Homo sapiens: one gene and its partner. The protein of the gene in region 1 interacts with the protein of each later gene in a pairwise test. Each region holds a gene or a part of one and is shown on either strand. Other genes may lie near its edges.

Region 1 (3,824 bases):
ACAGCCAAAAACTCGTGTTGTAATCAAAGGTATTGCAGTCTCCAAAGTGTATTTTAAAGTTGTAAATATCAACATTTACTTATCACTGATGCCATTTTCTAGAGCACAGCTTGTTCTTTTAGTTCATTTCTGTAATCATCTGATACTCTTAGGATGCCACTGAAGAGGAATAACTCTAAATGTCAGAACTGGTTATGAAATTGTTTCTTTTTAATTTTGTTTTAATCTGTTATCACTAAACTCAGTAGCAGCCTGGTTGATACTAGCAGTAGCATGCTGATTATTGAGGAATATTTGTTGTTCTGTTTTTATTATTTTACCTAGAATTTCTGTAACTTTTAATTATGGTGTTTGGAAATTATATTTGTTTACTGAATCTTTGTTTGATTGTCTCTAGACCCTCCGCTTGAATTGCCGTCTTTCTACATGACTCCATCTCATCGCCAAGTTGTGTTTGAAGGAGACAGCCTTCCTTTCCAGTGCATGGCTTCATATATTGATCAGGACATGCAAGTGTTGTGGTATCAGGATGGGAGAATAGTTGAAACCGATGAATCGCAAGGTATTTTTGTTGAAAAGAACATGATTCACAACTGCTCCTTGATTGCAAGGTAAACTTTTTTTTTTTTTTTGAATGAAGAATTGTGCCTGTGTATTTTATTTATCCTTTTGGAGGTGTAATGTTTAGTGGAATTTGAATTAATATTTCATCTTCTTGTATTTAAAAATGCAAACATCTGGCATTTCCTTTTCCTGGTTCTTATTCATCTTCTAAAATTAAATAGCCATCTTTTCATCCAGTTTTTAAAGAAAAGACTTAATTTCAAAGAAACTTTAGAAATTGAAGACTTTTTTAAAGTTTTTGGAGGAAAAATGTAAACTTTTAGTGCTAAACCTAATTTCCAACTATTTCCTGCTGCTAAGCTTACATTTTCTCTTTTAGTAATCACCTGATATTGACTCTAGTCAAAATATTGACTGATACAATATTTTAAGGTACTTATCTTCTCCACCTACTAGTATAAAAGAATATAACATCTGAACTATCAACCTCATAATTGGTGTGAATACCAAAATAATTAAAAGTAAAAATACTTTATAAAGTATAATAGACTAAGAATATATATGATATTATCACTTACCAGATATTTTACTTTGGTAAAATTTTTACCTTTAGACATTGAGTTTTCCACTCCCTTTCTTCTTTCTTTCCACCTACCTAGAACTTGGCTTATATTTTTATTTCAGTAGAGCTGCAGTTTTCAGACTCTCTGCCAGGTCCTCCTAGGGTAACATCACAGCAAACTCACAGGGGTGCTATGAAAGATTACTGAAAAACTAAAGGTTCTGAGTTGACATTCAAATCTCAGGGGTTCTCTGAGTTGAGATTCAAGACTTATGCAGTTGGCTATTTTATAATTTTTCTTGAGATTTCATGTCTACTAGAAGCATATTTTCATTTATATCTTCCAACATTTAGAGTAGATGCTTTAAATCCTTTCCTGCTAATTCCAACATGTGGGCAATCTTGTGGTTATTGCTACTGGCTGCTTTTCTTTTAAATATGGTTCATATTTTCTTCTTTTTAAAAAAGTATTGTTTATAGGTCTGACAGTTTTGGATTATAGACTGGACGTTATGAATGATTTGCTGTGGAGGAGAAGCTGGCTAGGTACAGTCTATGAACCAAATCTGGCCCACGGAGCCCATAAACTAAGAATGTTATTTATATTTTTAAATGGTTACATTTCAGATGGTTACATAATTCCCTGCATAATATTCTTAATATTGCTTCGTAGCCAGCAAAGCCTAAAATATGTACTGTCTGGCCATTGAAGAAAAAGTCTGCCGACCTCTGACTCTGGATTCTGTTATATTCTCCTAAAGTGAGCTAACTTTTGTTTGGTCAGGCAGTTAGCTTGGCTGAACTAACTCCTAGCTCTGTCCCCTCTGGTAGGCAGAAGCTAAAGTCTTGGTTTCTGCTCTCTACCTGCAAGTGTAGTTCAGGATCAGTAAGAGATCTTGGTGCATTTTATACATAGAAGTTTGGGCTTCCAGCCTGACTTCTTTCTACCTCTGTCTTCTGATTTTTTAAGCCAATAAGATTGTGAGTTTCTATTTGAGTGAGGCCTACCCTTGGGCAAAAGCCATTAAAAAAAAATCTAGTTACTTCCCAGTGCCAAAAACCCTTGTTTCTCATATCAACTCCTGTTCAGTTATTGCCTGCTTTTGATCAATCTTCATATGTTCAAATGATTGTCATTTTATAATTTGTCAGGGGCATATAATTGTTAGCTGTGGGAAGGGTGATTTAATATGAGCTACTCAGTGATTGCTAGAAGCAGAATTCCCTTATTAGGAGATACGATTAATCGTTCGAAATGATATATTCATTGTTACACTAGTTTTACTGTAGCGATAATTTCACATGCCTATACATATGTCAGAATTCATCACATTGTACACTAAGCAGTTTATTGTATAAACAGACAATAATTGATGTATAATTCAATAGTAAAGTTTTAAAAGTAGAACCATTTTCTATGTAGAAGAGCTTTGATTAATTTAGAACTCTAAATTATTTGACTATAAAATAAGTAGATTTACTGTATAAATCTATTTCTGCAAGTCATGCTTAAATTTAAATTATGTTTAGCAATGCAAAAAAAGTTAATTCTAAGGATAACAAGTTAACCTAACATTTTTTTTGGTAGGGACATGTGACTAAAGTGAAAATCTTTCATGTGAAGCCTGAGACAGTTCTTTACCTAGATTTTGCCCCAGAATAATAAAAGAAAGAAATATGTGGTTATTGCATTGGTTAATCTGAGATTCCTATTGATTTTTCATTGATCTCCCCATGTCTTTGATTCTTCATCAGTAAGAAACAGCATTTTTCTTAGGAGTTGAAATTGAAGCTACTTCTTTCTTTTTAAATCTCCAAATCTGCTGCCTTGAGGATTCCTGGAAATGTTATTCCAGTGATTGGTTTTAGATATTAAAAGTATTGCTAAAAGTTATCCAGGAAACATTTGCAGATTTGGAGATTGAAGGGGAAAAAAGTAGTAAGAAAACTAGAAACACTCCATTATAGTGTTTGGGATGCTGGACTTTGGACAGTTACTGTGGTACAAAGCAAGTGCTACGTGTAAAAGTCATTGTAGAACAAGAAATGAGCATCATTGTCTGATCCGAATCTGAGGTTAGATTAATTTTAGAGTGTCTAGCAGGCACACATATCTCATTAAGAAGTAGTTGTTATTTAAGAATACAATAAAAATTTTATTTCAAATTTATGTGTGTTACTTTTTTCAAATGGCTACTAAAGTATTTGAATATAGATAGACATTTGGGGGATTTAATTTAGTAATAGAAACCACCATCGGTATTTTTTTGAGCTGGGGTGGGGCACCATGACAAAGTTACTATGTCAGTGAAGTAAGACAGTGTTTGGGAACTTCTGGATTAAGGAATGATTTTCATTGACGAAATATACTTCTTCCTAGTTCAGTAAAGCCTTATAAAGTAGAATGTTGGACAAAGTTAAATTTAATGTCAAACTCTTTTTTGTGTCACTCTATTTTAAAAATATTAATTACAGTATGTTTATTTTTCTAACTTAGTAAAGACAACATTTTCTTTGATGATTCATAATATAAAAGTGTCTTGAGCCTTTATTAGAACATTTGCTGTAGCCGTCAATGATTTAGGAGATCGGACAAATGTGTATTTACTTTAAGACATAATTTTGTAAGTTAATTAAAATGATACATACTTTCTGTCTAATTATTTCTTATCATTTGTGTCTACATAACAGCAACGCA
Region 2 (3,824 bases), on another chromosome or scaffold:
TCTGCCCCTCTGTGTACACACTTGCTGCTCTCCCATCAAGAGATGAGTCTGTCTCGCTTCCCCTTGAACCTAGGCTGGTCTCCTGACTTGCTGTGACTGCAGAATGAAACAGCAGTGATGCTGGACCAGGTGTGAGCCTAGCTCTTCAAAGGCCTCACAGTTTCTGCCTTGACTTTCTTGGGGGAGAGCTGCCATGCTATAAGAAGGTGGTTTAGAAGGGAACAGAGGCCACCAAGACTCACAGCCAGCTTCAATTGCCAGGCAAGCTGGGTGCTGACGTACTTTTGACCATAGAATCATGAGACATAGATGGCTGCTGCTTTAAGCCACTACCTTTTGGGATGGTCTGTGGTGTAGTAAGAGTAACTGAAACGCTGGCTTCTTATCTTAAAATAAATTCTAGCCAGGTGTGGTGACTCATGCCTCTAATCTCAATGTTTTGGGAGGCTAAAGAAAAAGGATTGCTTGAGGTCAGGAGCTCAAGACCAGCCTGGACAACACAGCAAGATCCCATTTCTATAAAAATAAAATATAAAAATTAGCCAGGCATGGTGGTGCATGCCTGTAGTCCCAGCTACTCAGAAGGCTGAGGTGGGAGAATCACTTGAGTTCGAGGCCGCAGTGAGCTATGATTACCACTGAACTCCAGTCTGGGTGAAAGAATGAGATCCTGTCATTAAATAAATAAATAAAATAAAATAAATCCTAATGGCACTAGTTTTTCTTCACACCATTATCTCTAAGAGGTGAACCTTTTCCATGAGAACTAGGGAACTGCTCCCTTTGTACCTGCAGTGAAGCAACCCTCAACCCCTGGTTATCTTGGGCATCCGCAGAGGGTTTGGGATTATCATATATCATTGTATGTACTTGTCCTTTTTCCTTGTCATTTTTCATATACCTTTGCTAGGTATCTAATTGTTCAGATGTTCTGCTCCATTAGGGCAGGGATTTATTTGTCTTTATCTCCAGTGATTCTATAGCTTCCTGGCAAACAGTATATGTTCAATGAAACTGCTGAATGAATGAATGAATCATTCTCTGCCTCATTGCCTCCACCTGATAAATCCACTGCCAGCTGTGCCCTCCTCAAACATCCAATCTTAAAACACATTTTTCTGCTCTATCAATGTGCTGCCTCCTGTTCTTTTATAAACATAATCCTCAAATATTCTATGTCTATGTAAGCCACATCTCAGCCCAATGCTGCCTCCTTTGATTCAGTGGCAACAGCAATCAATGGCTTAGGTCCTATAATAACGCTGGGTTTTGTGTTTAAATCAGATAACATATCCAGAATTCAGACACGTAACTATGTTTTCAGTGATTGTTGCCTTTTCATCTTCTTTCCAATGCTTTCTATTTCTTAGAATGCCAAGGACATCCACCCCTCATGGCAACATCTGCATGTTGACATACATCAGTAATGGTCTGTGAATCATTTGAATTCTGGTAAGATGAACATTTATTACCATTTACTCTGAGTTAGGCACTATGCTGGGCAGCTGACCTATATAACATCCCCTGTTATATGAAAAAGAAAGCCTAGGTTTAAATCTCAGGCCAACAGTTTCTCCATTCAGCAGCACACTGCCTCTGGAACTAGTGGGCTCTAGACAATGAGATGAAATCAACAAAGATGATTCATAGGCTTTAGATGCTGGAGCTTCCTGAGAAGCAGAGTTCTTATCCTTCCTTCTCTTTCGTAGGTTGAAGGCTGACACCGTCATAGTCTCTCTACTCATCTCCATGGCCAAAATTTGCTTTTGAAAGCATTTGCTCCAAAGTATAAATGACTGTTAACAACTGCACATGGCACCCCCCTCCCTTGAAGGCATTCTGAATTTCAACCAAACATTTAGGATGCAAAAATGGAACAAGATTAGCAAGATTTAGACTTGGAAGCAGGCAAGTCAGATTCCTCCCAACAGTCATGCTATTCAATGCAGCAAGCAACCCAGCCTTAGTGGAAAGAAGCTTGGGAAAAGGGAACGTGAGACTTCTCACAATATACAGGAAGGACCTTTGCAGTCAAATAGCCTACTCACCTGATTTTCCTGGGTCAGTCCCTATTAAACATGGGTGTTTCACTTCTCAGCTGTGGATAGCACACTCATCCCTGCCCTGGTTTCAGTTTTTAATCTCTTTCCTCTCCCGCAGCCTAGTGCAGACCGACAGCCCTTTTCTCCAAAACAGCACGTCATATTTAAGAATGTATGTCCCTTGAATATAATAATATGATAGTATATTTATTCTTCTGCTCACATTTTGCATGAAAAACATACTTAAGACAGTTAATAAAAAAACATATAACATCTCGTTGACGACCCAGCAGAAGTAGTGCCATCTTCTTTAAGTCTCTGCTCTGTCAATGGTCATGCATGTAGAAGCTTCTCAGTGACCTCTCGGCACAATGAACTGCTATATTCCTTAGCACACTGTAATAATATCATTCTGAGCACCATCCTGAGCACCATGTAATAATATCACTCTGAGCACCTATGTCATAGACTTGCAATAATTGTTGACAATTTGTCTCCTTAACTAGACTGTGAGGCCCTTGAGGGCACTGTGTTTTATTCATCTTTTTTATTCTGTGTAGCTGAGAGCCTGGTGCTTATTACATAGCCAGTACATTCTTGGAGGAAATCATCTCTTACTCAATTGGTGTCAGGAAGAAATTGAGAGCCACAGACTGGCAGGTTCAGGGATCCTTTGCACTACTGAGCAGCTACTCAGACCCTGTGAACTGTATGTTCCCTACTTCCCTCCTGTCATATCATTTTTCTTTTTTTTTTTTTTTTAGACAGAATCTCGCTCTGTCACCCAGGCTGGAGTGCAGTGGTGTGACTCAGCTCACTGCAACCTCTGTCTCCCGGGTTCAAGCGATTCTCCAGCCTCAGCCTACCAGGTAGCTGGTATTACAGGCGTGCACCACCATGCCCAGCTAATTTTTGTGTTTTTAGTAAAGACAGGGTTTCACCATGTTGGCCAGGCTGGTCTCGAACTCCTGACCTCAAGTGATCCGCCTGCTCAGCCTCCCAAAGTGCTGGGATTAGAGGCATGAGCCACCGCGCCTGGCACCTCACTAGGATTTAAAAGAAGCCCAGTGATTCCGAGGGCTCCTGTCTACCACCACTTCTCTCCACCACAACATCTTCTCCTCCACACTGCTGACTCCCTGGGAGAGCAAATCCAAGAGCGGGCTATGACTAGTCAGAGCATCCACCTCCCCTAGATGACTCCAGGACCCAGGCCATTGTTTCTCATCTCTATGCATAGCTCAGCCACCACTGCAAGCTCCAAACTCTCAGGCCACCCATCGTCACCTGGGCTCCTTCTACAACCTGGCTGTGGATGCTCCCTAACCTGACCGAGTCTGTGTCTCTTCACACACACACTCTCTGGGACTCACAGTAGGTCCTCAGCATTGCCTCCTGTATCCCTCAGCTGCTTAGCTCTTAGAGAAAAACACACAACCCTCCTTCCCGCTGTACTTTAATGTTATGACCGTAAATCTCAGATAGGCCTTCAGGACTTCCCAGTGACTCTACCAAACTTCCATAAAATGTTTACTGTCCCACTCTCAAAGATGAATCTTTCACACCTTCTCTGAGGCTAAAACTGCCATCGTTCCCCATTCCTGACTCTCTCTTAGCTGATGACCTTGCTTCATATTTCACTGAGGACATAAACATATCCTAAAGAGATCACTATCTCTCTCCCTCTGTCTCTACTTGCCTCAGGGCTCACACACTTTGCTCTCCTTGTCACTTCCCAATGCTCCCCTTGGGCACTGAATCCCGTTGCCTCTTTTGCCTATC

The links.
Region 2: the proteins of ADGRA3 (region 1) and ADRA1A interact in a two-hybrid assay, tested with the Homo sapiens proteins (one large-scale study listed by BioGRID and IntAct).

The regions. Positions count from the first base shown.
Region 1 is NC_000004.12:22,439,437-22,443,260, reverse strand, and holds part of ADGRA3 (adhesion G protein-coupled receptor A3 precursor), read left to right. Parts: intron 1-125; exon of another isoform or gene 126-153; coding exon of another isoform or gene 154-181; intron 182-397; coding exon 398-611; intron 612-3,824. UniProt on the Homo sapiens protein: Orphan receptor that may have a role in planar cell polarity pathway.
Region 2 is NC_000008.11:26,856,984-26,860,807, forward strand, and holds part of ADRA1A (alpha-1A adrenergic receptor), read right to left. Parts: intron 2,223-3,824; exon of another isoform or gene 2,049-2,222; intron 1,800-2,048; exon of another isoform or gene 1,710-1,799; intron 1,453-1,709; exon of another isoform or gene 1,371-1,452; intron 1-1,370. UniProt on the Homo sapiens protein: This alpha-adrenergic receptor mediates its action by association with G proteins that activate a phosphatidylinositol-calcium second messenger system. Its effect is mediated by G(q) and G(11) proteins.